4 linked regions of the Homo sapiens genome follow. The protein of the gene in region 3 purifies or fractionates together with the protein of the main gene of each other region. This does not show direct contact. Each region holds a gene or a part of one and is shown on either strand. Other genes may lie near its edges.

Evidence for each region. The genes of interacting proteins can lie anywhere in the genome.
Region 1: the proteins of TPST1 (region 3) and MLYCD purify together in Homo sapiens (co-immunoprecipitation; one large-scale study listed by IntAct). This does not show direct contact.
Region 2: the proteins of TPST1 (region 3) and TMEM59 purify together in Homo sapiens (co-immunoprecipitation; one large-scale study listed by IntAct). This does not show direct contact.
Region 4: the proteins of TPST1 (region 3) and TRDN purify together in Homo sapiens (co-immunoprecipitation; one large-scale study listed by IntAct). This does not show direct contact.

Annotation. Positions count from the first base shown.
Region 1 is NC_000016.10:83,909,115-83,912,614, reverse strand, and holds part of MLYCD (malonyl-CoA decarboxylase, mitochondrial), read right to left. Parts: intron 398-3,500; coding exon 248-397; intron 1-247. UniProt on the Homo sapiens protein: Catalyzes the conversion of malonyl-CoA to acetyl-CoA.
Region 2 is NC_000001.11:54,039,705-54,043,204, forward strand, and holds part of TMEM59 (transmembrane protein 59 isoform 2 precursor), read right to left. Parts: intron 2,102-3,500; coding exon 2,020-2,101; intron 1,137-2,019; coding exon of another isoform or gene 1,134-1,136; coding exon 1,052-1,133; intron 1-1,051.
Region 3 is NC_000007.14:66,358,006-66,361,070, reverse strand, and holds the end of TPST1 (protein-tyrosine sulfotransferase 1), read right to left. Parts: intron 2,273-3,065; exon of another isoform or gene 1,177-2,272; 3' UTR 628-1,176; downstream 1-627. UniProt on the Homo sapiens protein: Catalyzes the O-sulfation of tyrosine residues within acidic motifs of polypeptides, using 3'-phosphoadenylyl sulfate (PAPS) as cosubstrate.
Region 4 is NC_000006.12:123,504,451-123,507,950, forward strand, and holds part of TRDN (triadin), read right to left. Parts: intron 1-3,500. UniProt on the Homo sapiens protein: Contributes to the regulation of lumenal Ca2+ release via the sarcoplasmic reticulum calcium release channels RYR1 and RYR2, a key step in triggering skeletal and heart muscle contraction.

The DNA.
Region 1 (3,500 bases), on a different chromosome or scaffold from region 3:
ACAACTGCGTCTTGCAGTCAACTGGGCAGCTGGGTTGGAGGCCTCTCTCAGCATCATTCTCATCTCTCTGGGAGACTCATGGCTCCTAGGAGTTGCCAAGGGGTCTCTGGCACCTTTTCTACCCCCTGCCCCTCCCTTTAGCTCCTGTCTTCATCTGTGTCCCTCATGGCACCTGACACCCCACGAGGTTCGCTGACCTGACCACACGGAAGCCAAGCGTGACCGGGGCTCCCTGCGTGTCGCTTACCTGCAACTCCTTGACGACTCGCTTTATGAGGAATGTTCCCAGCTCCACCCCTTGGAGTCCCTGCTGGGTCAAGCTGATGGAATAAAAGATCGCAGCAGTGATTTTGTTCTTCTCTTCTGTTTCTGATGGAGGATGTTCCTTCACGATTGCCTGGAAAACACCAACGATGGTTCTAAGGGTGGCCTGGCCGCTCTGCAGCCCACGAGGCAAGCCTGTTGCTGGGACGAGAAGACAATTCTCAGAGCACTGAAGGAGCTGGAAGAGACCTCGGCTCCCCAGCTGGGGTTCAGGCTACAGAGCCTAAAAGCTGCTCTGTTTTGAAAACTCTCTGGAGGAGGCGACTCCACCGCGTGCCTGGGGGTCCTCAGCACTGCATCGTTTCTTGAAATTTTCATGCAAACTTTGTTGAAGAGCAATGTATGCCCCTTTCTGTCTCTTTTAGGCCTTTGTGCAAACAAAAACTTGCTCCATAAACTCTCCGGCCAACACTCAGCGATAACACACGGATCCTTGAGACCAAACAGCTCCAGTTCCTTCAGCTTCTCCTAAAGGACTGACGTTTCCCACCACTGAATTGTTTTTCCTCCTTTTCTCTGAACCCTAGGTTTTTCAAATTTCTCAAGAGGCTATAAGCAGTCCTATATAATTTTCTTTTAGGAAATATACCTTTGTTTGACTTTTTCATGTACCTTTTGGGTTTTGTGCCATTTCTGTTTTTCCTAAATGGTAACACATTTGCAGACATCCCTGCGAGGCATTCTAAGAAACGAGCTAGACTGGGAAGTCGCTTAGCTGAAGTCTGAGTTTATTGCCTCTCATTCTCACGGCAGCGTTTTCTAATCCCTTATACTCCGAAGCATAATCCTTAACACTCCAAAGCTCACTGGATAACAGTGGAACAGCAGGGGGCTACCTTTTCATTTGCTTTGAAGCAGGGAAACCAGCTTACTTTTGAAGAACCCATTTAAACTATTTTAACTTCTACCAGCGACCTTCGATTCTGGAAGTAGGAGCGTTTAGCTCAGACTGCATAGATGAGGTCTCGTAGTCAGTCCATGAACTTTCTGAAATTGTTCTGAAATTGTATGGAGGCCGGGCGCGGTGGCTCACGCCTGTAATCCCAGCACTTTGGGAGGCCGAGGCGGGCAGATCACGAGGTCAGGAGATCGAGACCACCCTGGCTAACACGGTGAAACCCCGTCTCTACTAAAAATACAAAAAAAATGAGCCGGGCATGGTGGCAGGTGCCTGTAGTCCCAGCTACTACGGAGGCTGAGGCAGGAGAATGGTGTGAACCCGGGAGGCGGAGGTTGCAGGGAGCCGAGATCATGCCACTGCACTCCAGCCTGGGCACAGAGCGAGACTCCGTCTCAAAAAAAAGAAAAAAAGAAAGAAATTGTGTATGGAATGTGTGAGTCTATGCATATCTGCCCTGAGGAAAACATCCTCAGCATTTTTCCCTCCAGATTCTTAACAGGGTCTGTGACTCCAACAAAGTGAAGAAATGCTGCTGTGAGGAAAGGGGGAGAGCTCATGACATGAAGGACATATCCTCCGAGGCCCGAGAGGGGCCCGCTGTCCTGCACCGTGCTCTATGGAAGAGCTCTGTCGTTCATAGGACGGAGCTCACTTCACATCACTCCCAGGCTTATCTCCTTTCTTTTTTTTTTTTTTTTTGAGATGGAGTCTTGCTCTGTCGCCCAGGCTGGAGTGCAGTGGCACGACCTCGGCTCACTGCAACCTCTGCCTAGTGGCAAGCGATTCTCATTTGTGCCTCAGCCTCCCAAGTAGCTGGGGCTACAGGTGCACACCACCACACCCGGCTAATTTTTGTATTTTTAGTAGAGACGGGGTTTCACCATGTTGGCCAGGCTGGTCTGGAACTCCTGACCTCAGGTGATCCGGCTGCCTCCTCAGCCTCCCGGGGTGTTGGGATTCTGGGCGCGAGTCACTGCGTCGGGCTCTCCTTTGTTTTTTAAGAAGTCTGCAAATTATCTTGTGATTCCTTATGCAAAAATCCCAGCAATCTTTTTTTTAAGTTTTCAAAATAAAAACAAAACTTTCTTCGGTTATACAAGTGAGGTATGTATAATGTCAAAGAGACAAAAAATTGATAAAACTAAGTGAATAAAACAAAAAGAGGCAAAAAAAAAAAACCATGCATAAAAAAAAATAACCAATTACTCCAAAATCTAATCTCCATGACTGTTGCTGCTGCCCTTTTGATGAACACCTTTCCAGGCCTGTCTCAGAGGCTCTCGGTACGCACACAAATGCACACAGGACTGCGTACCCACGCACATTCTCACGTGCCCTTAGAGTCAGGATGCGAGCTGGGTCTGAATTCCAGTTCCGCCCTTACTTGCTCGATGATCATGGGTAAGTTGCGGACGTTCCCTCAAGCCTCGGTTTTCTCATAATAATACCTATATCAGCCGGGCACGGTGGCTCACGCCTTTATAGTCCCAGCACTTTGGGAAGCCGCGGCGGGCAGATCACCTGAGGTCGGGAGTTCGAGACCAGCCTGGCCAACATGGTGAAATCCCATCTCTGCTAAAAATACAAAAAAAAAAAAAAATTAGCTGGGCATGGTGGCACATGCCTGTAATCCCCAGCTACTCGGGAGGCTGAGGCAGGAGAATTGCTTGTACCCGGGAGTTGGAGGTTGCAGTGAGCCGAGACAGCACCATTGCACTCTAGCCTGCGCAAGAAGAGCGAAACTCCGCTTCAAAAAAAAAAAAAAAAAACACAACACCACCACCTAAATCACAGGGTGCTCAGGGCAATAACACACAAAATGTGCTTCACAGACTGACAGGCACAGAGCACTACTCAACAGATATTATTAATATTATTCATAAGACCACACCATACCCATGCTACTCTATAAACCTGAACTTCTACTCAAGAGTAAGTCAAGGCTGGTTTTCCATATAAACCTACAACAATATTTAAATACATGCACAGATATCTGATGTACACGAGGCCGCGCCATGTGTCTACAGCGCCCTCCTGGAGCCCATTCTCTCCTGATGGGCCCTAGGTTATCATCCCCACCCTTTTGAACTGTCAGCAATGCTGCAGGAATAGCCATCTGACTCTCAGGGCTGAGCATCTCCCCAGGAGAAGTTCCTAGGAGTGGAATTGTTAGGCCAGAAGGAATGCACATTCTGAATTTTCATCCATGTTGCCAAATTGCCCTCAGAGAAGTCAGAATGGCCCCTAGTCCCACCAAGAGGGCATCGGAGTGTGA
Region 2 (3,500 bases), on a different chromosome or scaffold from region 3:
CACTATAAAGCAGAAACTTGTTTACCACTCACTGAAATGCTTGACCTGGTATCTGACACCGAGTAGGTGATAGTCAATAAGTGGTATGGCCCACTATCTTTCTCTTTTTCCTTTTTTTGTTGGGGGTGGGGAGGAGTAAAATGTGGGGGAGGGACCATATCTGAACTCCTTGGAGAAGAGGAAACATGCACACTTTCATAAAACCTGCCTCTCACCCTCATAAGGCTTGATATTTTTTCCTAGGAGGGCATATGGTACCCCTACTCTCACTTGCCCACTTTACCATTACCCTTAAAAACTCTTGGCATAGAGCTGATATTCCTTAGTATAGAATACAAAGCCCTTCTTAATCTAGAGTCTTTATCCAGCTCTTCTAGCGTCAAATCTGGCCATGCAGATAAAAACAAAAACAAAAATCTGATCCCTAAACCATTCAAACATACTTATTTTATTTATTTTATTTTTTGAGACAGAGTCTCACTCTGTTACCTAGGCTGGAGTGCTGTGGCGTGATCTCAGCTCACTGCAACCTCTGCCTTCCAGGTTCAAACGATTCTCCTGCCTCATCCTCCTAAGTAGCTGGGATTACAGGCATGCACCACCACGCCCGGCTAATTTTTGTATTTTCAGTAGAGATGGGGTGTCGCCATGTTGGCCAGGCTGGTCTCGAACTCCTGACCTCAGGCGATCCACCCGCCTTGGCCTCCTAAAGTGCTGGGATTACAGGCATGAGCCACTGTGCCCGGCCTCAGACATATGTTAAATTAAAGCTTAATTTAAATGTGTGGAGAAGCACATTCAACATAAATCAAGAGATTCTAACAAGAAAAATGCTCTTGTACTGTGAAAAAAACTACCTGCCTGGGTTTTATTCAAGTAGTATGCCTACAACCTTTTAAACAAACTAAAATATCTAATGTACAACTTTGGAAAGGAACAAGTAAAAAGGTTTACTTTTGAGGTGCTAATTTTAAAATAATAAAAAGTAATATATCTCTCTGATACAAGCCAGATTTTATCTGTTATACACATAATAAAGAGGAATACATACAGAGAGAGGCATCTTAAAAAGCCATCACTTTCTCCATCTTCAAGAAAATTCCTGTGCGCTTGTGAATTTCTCATTTGCAGATCTGCTGAAATAGTAAGTATGAGTTTATTATATCCTATATTCCAAAAGCTAGTCTCACATGACTACTTCTAGATATATACACTTTACAGATATCCAATTGTTTTTGTTTGTGTCATCTGATACATTTTATAATGTGTACCAGTTTCTCTAGCACATCAAAACCAAATGAATATTCTATCACATTATGAGTTTCCTGTTTTATTTTCAAATTCTTATTGACATTGATGCTTTCTGCTTAATTACATGTGAGCTTGGATTTGGTTTATTCTAATCTAATTAAAGTTAAAGATGGTCTTATGTTATGTGCTATCATTATCTACCCACTCCCACCCACCAAAATAATTAGAAGGCTAATTAAATCAGTATCTAAAATAAGGTATGAGGAAATTTCACAAGGTGAGTTCTGCTTTAGCTTGATGTTTTATGTTCTTATAAGTCAAAATTCACTTCTAACATGGAAATAAAAATAGAATGGGGACTCTCACTTTTGGCATTTTTCATTATTTGATCAATTTATTGGGAAATACCAGAATATTTGATTAGTTCATGCTCAAAACATCCTTTGAAGCAAACTAAATGTTTTTAGAATAGTGATTTTCAAAGTGTGGCCCCCAGGCCAGCAGCATCAGCAAAATCTGGAACTTGTGAGAAATACAAATTCTCAGATCTTCTCCCAGACCTAGTAAATTAGAAACTCTGGAGGTAGGGCCCAGCAATCTGTGTTTGAACAAGCTCTCCAAACTGTAATACACATGAAAGTTTGAGAACCACTGTTTTAGAAATTATCTGTTTATGTTCCATCAGTGTAAAAACAAACATGACCAACTCTACTACAACCAGATTTGACTGCTAATGTTTTTATCTAAGCTACTTAAAATAAAACTTACAGGACATTTTGCTTAGAGATGATTCTCTCAAATTTGTAGGCTCCTGCTCCAAATGTGGTGCGTACTGGATTTCTGGCTTAGACTAAAATAATAATGAAAGCAATTAAGTCATTTGTACTTCTTTAGCTTTTTTCAGTAACAAGTTCTAAAACAAATCATCTCTTTAAACATTTAAATTGAGAAAAAGTAGCAGAAATACTGTATAAAAAATAAAACACATTAACCACAATATATTTTAATTGCACTTCCTAAACATCAGAGCCAGTGCCTTGCAAAGAAACAGATTTCTGGCAGATTTATGTTAGTTTAACTTCCTGACAACGTTTTGTTTTGTTTTTTTTTTTTTTTAAAGGGAGAGAGGGACAAATCATGACATACTACATTAAATACTATACCTTGCAGAAATGAGTTCTAATTCTAGTTGATCAGGAATAATTTATCAGACTGCCAAAACTTTTGGCTAAATACACATTATCTCTATTTATTCTCATATGAAACATTATATTCTTCCCTAAGTATGAGGAATCCATAAATTACAGCCAAACACTCCATACTTTTTACATCTTGTGTATAGTTCTGATCCTCTAGAATGGGGGTTTCTGCATCCCAGTTATGCTCAAATTCACACAGACTTTAGAGAGACACAGAGCTAATCTCCTATCTAATGAGGAATGAATGAGGGCTTCACTCTGAGAGTCAACTTATGCCTTGAGGTAAGTAGCTTTAGGACCTAGAACTTGTTCATGAATTTAAAGAGAAAATTCCTGTGTTTTACTTATTACCAAATTAAGTAGAGGGGACCCAAGGTTCAGGGGAGTGCTAAAAATCACATACCAGCCATACATTAAGCCACTTACTTAGCTACAGTACTTAAAAGGTTTACTTTATTACCTGAGAGGAAGACAGTGCCACAACATAAACTCTGTTGACTGGTAAATTTGAGGAATTCAACTACTGAATTAAAAGCATGGTAGGGTAGTATATGGGCCTTGGTGCTAAAGTGCCCTGGGTTTGAAGCTTAATTCTGTTACTTATTGGCCGTGAAACTGCAACAAGTTACTCTCACCTTCCTCATAATAAAACAGGAATAATACAACCTCATAAAGTTGTTTGAAGATGTGAGAGAATATATCTAGCACAATATAACCTCCAGGGAATAACAGTTATTATCATGTGGTAAACGATGAGATAGGAGACATTACTTCTCTAGGCAAAATACTTCTTCAACAAGTTCTCTTATTAGAGTCATGAGTAAAAGCACTGTAAAAAACTAAAAATTATGTCATATTGCTTTTATCTGATATCCATATGTAATCATATATGGCCACTATTTATGTTCGAAGTATATTAATTATTGTCTCTCATATTTAAAAATTTCATTTTATCAATTTAACCACCATAAAATTTAAAAGACTCAAGAGTTCTGGTTACATAAAAACTAATGGGCTTTAGATTAGGCTTCTAACGGGCAAAGGGAAGGG
Region 3 (3,065 bases):
AAAGAGGGAGGAAAAGGGTGAAATCAAGTGTGACTCTTCAGTTTCTGGCTCAAGTGACAGTAGAAAATACTGCAGTTACTGATATGGATATGACCTAAATGGATAGGTACAAGTTTTGGGGCAGAGATGGGATAACATGTTATATACCCTTTTCATGGCTGGCACATATGTGAACACACTCAATATGGGAATTATTACTACTATCTGGACATCCTGGGTTTCATAACAAAGGCTTCTAGAAAACAAGTGGAAATAGTAACTTCCATGTCCTTAAATACAGTCTGCAAGCATGAAATAGAACAGGATTCTCAAAGTGGATGGCAATAGGTTCTCTCTTGAAATAAAAAGAAAACTTCACTACAAAATGATAATGCAGGCCAAGCACCGTGGCTCACACCTGTAATTTTAGTACTTTGGGAGGCTGAGGCAGAAGGATCGTTTGAGCCCAGGCTGGGGAATGTAGCGAGACCCTGCCTCTACCCACCACCCCCCTCCAAAAAAAGGTGATGGCTCCAGGGGAGTATCTACAATACAGCCAACCAAGGAAACTTTGGTTTATCACATCAGCATCTGATAAGGTCTGTGCTTCTCTGAAATCACATTAATGAAAACATGTAACTACCAGAATGCTTCACATTGAAAGCTTTTATTTTGAAAAATAAAATACAAAAGTCATTAGGTTGTAAATGTATAATGGTAATTTCCCAACTTCTCAGAAACAATACAATGAATTAAATAATTAGGATATTTAATATTATTCACATCAATACACTTAAACAGGCACACGTGTTCTACAAAACATTAGAACATGTACAGACAACCTATTTCAAAAGGAGACTGCCCAAGTCTGCTTACAGGATCCCATTTTTAAACCCTCTCCTTGAAAACAAACGTCATAATGTAAGAAAAGAGAACAAGAGGAGTTTTAACAGGAAACACATGTTCCTTCTGGGCTCCTTACTGCAGGGCTGTGCATGAAATCGGGATCAAGAGCTCTTTGCTCAGGAGGCAGATCCCTCACGAGGCCCAAAGCTGTGCGGACACCTCCATCCTCTCAGTGGGAGGAAACTGGCAAATGCACAGGCGGCGCAGCCAAGGTGCAGACGCTCCACCAAGCTTGGCAGGGGACAGCCAATCCTAGGAATTTCCCTTCTGCTGAAAAGGCAGCAATCTTTCCTAGGGCGAACAAACAGAATGTGGTTACAGGTGTGGAGTCCCGGTGTGTTCTCCCTGTGTCTTCGTCTCTTCCTTCCCAGCTACAGGCCTAGACAAGCCAGGCGGTTGGGGAGGTTCCTGCAGATCAGGGGCCAGGAGGATGGATGTTGAGAACAGCTGCCTCAGGAAGACTGCCTGGGAGGCACACACACCCTCACTCTGGTGCTTTCAGATGCATGCAAGTAGCTGCTGGGTGCAAAGCAAGCAGATGGCCAAAACCAGGGCTGCTCCTGCCCATTTCTAAATAACTGACTGTCATCTGCTATTGTTGCTACTGTGGGGGCACTGTCAGGGGCACCAGATGTCCAGGGGTCAGCACCATGATTCCTCGTGTGAAGAAATGGGTCCTAAGGTTCTTAAAGTGTCCAGGGGTCAAGACCCTGATTCCTCCTTATGTGAAGAAATGGGTCCTAAGGTTCTTCAAGTGTCCAGGGGGCAGCACCCTGATTCCTCCTCATGTGAAGAAATGGGTCCTAAGGTTCTTTAAGTGTCCAGGGGGCAGCACCCTGATTCCTCATGTGAAGAAATGGGTCCTAAGGTTCTTTAAGTGTCCAGGGGGCAGCACCCTGATTCCTCCTCATGTGAAGAAATGGGTCCTAAGGTTAAGTGTCCAGGGGTCAAGACCCTGATTCCTCCTCATGTGAAGAAATGGGTCCTAAGGTTCTTTAAGTGTCCCAGGGGTCAGCACCCTGATTCCTCCTCATGTGAAGAAATGGGTCCTAAGGTTCTTTAAGTGTCCAGGGGTCAGCACCCTGATTCCTCCTCACGTGAAGAAATGGATCCTAAGGTTCTTTAAAGGAAGCTCCAGAGAACACAGATACTGTTATTGAAATGCCAAAGGGACCCAAAAGATAAGAAAGATAGTATCCATCCTAAGGGCTTTGCTGTGTCCCCAGTTCTCCTGAGTCCTCCTCAGCACAGGTTGGCCCCTCCCAACCTCCACACACAAGCCAGGGTGAAATGCTGCAGAGGCAACTGCTGATGCGGTCCATCCTACAACACGCTGGTAAAGAAATGAGGCCTTGTGTGTGTTTGGTGGGGCGGGCAGGGAGATTACCTATGAAGTTTGAAAGCATTTTGTATAAACAAAATTAGCCAAGGCCTGATAACTGCTGTTAAATATGCAGACCCACAGGGCATAAGACTAACATTCAGCATTTGCTCCTCAGCAAAAAGGAAACCTGAATCCTAGAACCTGTCAATATTAGCAGCTTGCTGCCATCTGGGATTTTGACATGACGGACCAGCGTCCATGTGCTTCTTATGTCTATAATCCATCAACGCACCGCAAGTCACATTCAACCTGTTTTCTCACTAGCAAAACAGGAATACTACCAGCTTGCCAGAGTGGTTTGAGAACTGAATACAATTTTATATATAGATGTATATATAATTTAGCGTATCTGTTATATATATATCATCTTATATATATGCAAATAAAATCCTTGGTATTTTATGCCTGGTATGGAGTATGCACAATACATCATTATATAAAGTAAAAATAAAAACATTATATAAAAAAAAAAAACAAAGGTCAGCAAGTAAACTATGAGAAAAAATCACTATCAATATCAGATTTTATTTTTATTTATTTATTTATTTATTTTTGAGACGAAGTCTCGCTCTGTCACCCAGGCTAGAGTGCAGTGCTGCAATCTCGGCTCACTGCAACCTCTCTGCCTCCTGGCTTCAAGCAATTCTCTTCCTTCAGCCTCCCGAGTAGCTGGGACTATAAGTGCCCACCACCACGCCCAGCCAATTTTTTTTTTTTGAGACGAAGTCTCTCTCTTGTCACCCAGGCTGGAGTGCAATGGCACGATTTCGGCTTACTGTAACATCCACCTCTTGGG
Region 4 (3,500 bases), on a different chromosome or scaffold from region 3:
AACAATGAAATCCATTAGAAGATAACTGAAAGACCTATAGTCTAATGATTTGGCCTTAGAAAAACTGAAAGTGAAGAAATTCAGATATTGGCTCCTGTTTATCTTAAGTCAGCGATAATTCTACTAGTTTTTAAAGCCCTTAAACATATCATGGGAAATTCAAAGGGCTATAAATAAAAATATATATGAATAGATATATAAATTAGAACATATATATATTACACACATATATTCTTAATTTGATATTATCCGTATTTTGGAAGAGGGAACTGTGATGCAAATAACTAGTCTGTGGATCATTCAAGCATCTTTTAAAAAGCAGTAATAATGTAGCACATAATTTGTGGAAAATTGTTCATAATAGATGCTGAATATTGGACATTCCTTTTTGTATGTGACTACACATAACCACTATACACCACAGCAACTCTACTGCAATGTTGGAATCCTCTATGTCATTTGCTAATGCACTGTGTAGCCTTTATTGTCACTCATGTTAAAGAATTTGATGAAGGCCGGGCATGGCGGCTCATGCCTGTAATCCCAGCACTTTGGGAGACCAAGGCGGGCGGGTCATGAGGTCAGCAGATCAAGACCATCCTGGCTAACAGGGTGAAACCCCATCTCTACTAAAAATGCAAAAATTAGCTGGGCGTGGTGGTGCATGCCTGTAATCCCAGCTACTCAGGAGGCTGAGGCAGGAGAATCATTTGAACCAGGGAAGCGGAGGTTGCAGTGAGCCGAGATTGCGCCATTGCACCACAACTTGGGCAACAAGAGCAAAACTCTGTCTCAAAAAAAAAAAAAAAAAAAAAAAAAAGAATTTAATGAAAAAATGTAATCAAGTTTCTTGACTTTGGTACCCTAAATGATGATTTCAGGCTAAGCCAAGATAATATCAGAAGGTCCCATTGAGAGAATGAAAATGATAATGCCAGATGCTGGTTAGCTTGCAAACCAAAAATCATCTGTGGTATCGCACTTAATTGACTACGCCAGCACTTCCCAAAACACTGTTTCTCAGATACTTCAGATATTTACAGGAAGATGTTGATACTGTATTAGGTATTGGAGAATATTCTCATGGCCAAATTCATTTGGCAACAATAAGCTAACCTGGTCATTTAGCTTGGACTTTCTCAAAGCTGAAGTGTATTGAGAATTTTTAAGAAGGGGAATTATGATACACACATTATTCAATATTGTTTAATCATAAAATTCTCATACAAATATTACTCAATTACTCTATAAACTTTTTTTTTTTTTTGAGATGAAGTCTTGCTTTGTCATCCAGGCTGTAGTGCAGTGGCACGATCTCGGCTCACTGCAACCTCTGCCTCTCAGTTTCAAGGAATTCTCCTGCCTCAGCCTCCCAAGTAGCTGGGATTACACGCGCCTATCACCAAGCCCAGTTAATTTTGTATTGTTAGTAGAGATGGGGTTTCACATGTCCATAAACTTTCAACATCTTTGTGGCTTCTGTAACTACACTCAGGGGATTTTCTTCTTCCTATAAATCATTTCTAAACCTCCTTTGCTGGTTTCTGCTCTTTCCTGCAGTAAACTCATATGTTTCTGTGACTGAAACCAGCAGCTTTCTGCGGATGACTTTAAATTGAAATCATTCCAGAATTCCACACTGGAATGTTTATTAGTGTCTGTCTGGAAAGAAAGTTTCACTGGAGTGGTCAACAGCACCTCAATCTCATGCAACTCATTCACCTAAAAAACACTTCTAGAGAGTCTATGTTGACCTGGGCTCACAGCTAGTTGCTGGAGCTCTAAAAATCAGCATAATAATAAAACTACCTGAATAAATTTTAGCACAGCAAAATTAAAACCGTGCAATATCTGGCTTCCTCCTATCTCCCATGTTACAGCACTTTTCCAAAAATTTATTCCTCTACTGGACTGCTTTCTTTCTTTTGAATATTTTATGTATTTTTCCATGTGTCAACTGTTGTCAGACTGCATTCTCTATATTTTCTATATTTTTCCACATATTTAAATTTCTTTATTTCTTTTTTATTTATTTTTGTCTTTTTGTTTTTTTGTTTAGATAGACTCTTGGCTCTGTTGCCAGGCTGGAGTGCAATGGTGCAATCTTGGCTCACTGCAACCTCTGCCTCCCGGGTTCAAGCAATTCTCCTGCATCAGCCTCCCGAGTAGCTGGGATTTCAGGTGTGCACCACCAACATCAGCTAATTTTTGTATTTTTAGTAGAGATGGGGTTTCACCATGTTGGCCAGGCTGGTCTTGAACTCCTGACCTCAGGCGATCCACCCGCCTCGGCCTCCCAAAGTGCTGGGATTAAATTTCTTCATGGTCAATTCACATGCAAAAAAATGGCTCTCCCATTTGAATTAATAATGTCTTCCCATGAGCTTCCATTTTTCTGAATTTTTATTAAATTATACATTTTATTCTTTATTATATATCTTGAAATATAGATAGTTTGATCTATCTGTCTTCCCTACCAGACAGACAGTGCTTAGGGGCAGGAATTCTATTATTATTTTTGTATCACCATAGTGTCTAGCACAATGCTTCTTTCAGAGAAAACAGAGGATAAATGTATACTGGATTAGCAATTTTGATGGAGAGAGTAAATATTCCACTATACTCAGATCATATGTATAATATAGTGATATAGAGACTGCATTATGTAAATATGTGTTTAGAAATAAACTTGTCTAAACCTGTTAAACTTGCCAACTTTTTTTTTTGTTTATACTAATTTGTATGAAATTGTTATATTTGCTTACTCTAAATGACAGCTATCTACTCCTTGTAAGTTACAGTTGATTTAACCTTAACTTTATAGTATGGAACTATAGATGTGTGAAATTCAGATTTCTTTTTAATGCCATTATAATTTATAAGTGGGCAATGATTATTTTCTAAGAGGTAGAACCACATATATAGCCAACTCATTATAATCATTGACTTTAAGTATAAAAATAATAAAATATTTTCTACTATTTTAGACACTCTTCAATCACATTCACTCTGGAAATAGATAACTTTGCCTCATAGTAGAAAAAAATGAGTGACAACTAAACAATGATGTGGCTATAATAAAGAAAATATCATGAAACTAAAGCAACACCCAACTTCTATTTACTTTTGAGTACACATTCTTCAATTTTGTGCCAAAATATTTTTCCTGATTTTTCCCTAAAATAATTTAAGTGACGAAATTTATTAAGGAATGAAAAAAACAAAAAGTATTGCCATGGGTATTCAAATCACCCAGTTTTATTTAGGAAGGCATTTTATTCATGACTTTTGTCAAATGGAAAACAAAATGGCCTAATCAAAAAAAATGACATCAGCATATTTGATTCAATCTTGGAATTAGCGTGATCCATTAGCTACTGCATCAGATTCAGAATGTCTGATGCCAAAGTATTAAATAGAATAGTATCCCTCAAGAAACATACTACACATGTTGGGAGTTAGAAAATAACAAATTTTCTCTCTCATTCCATAAAGAACTG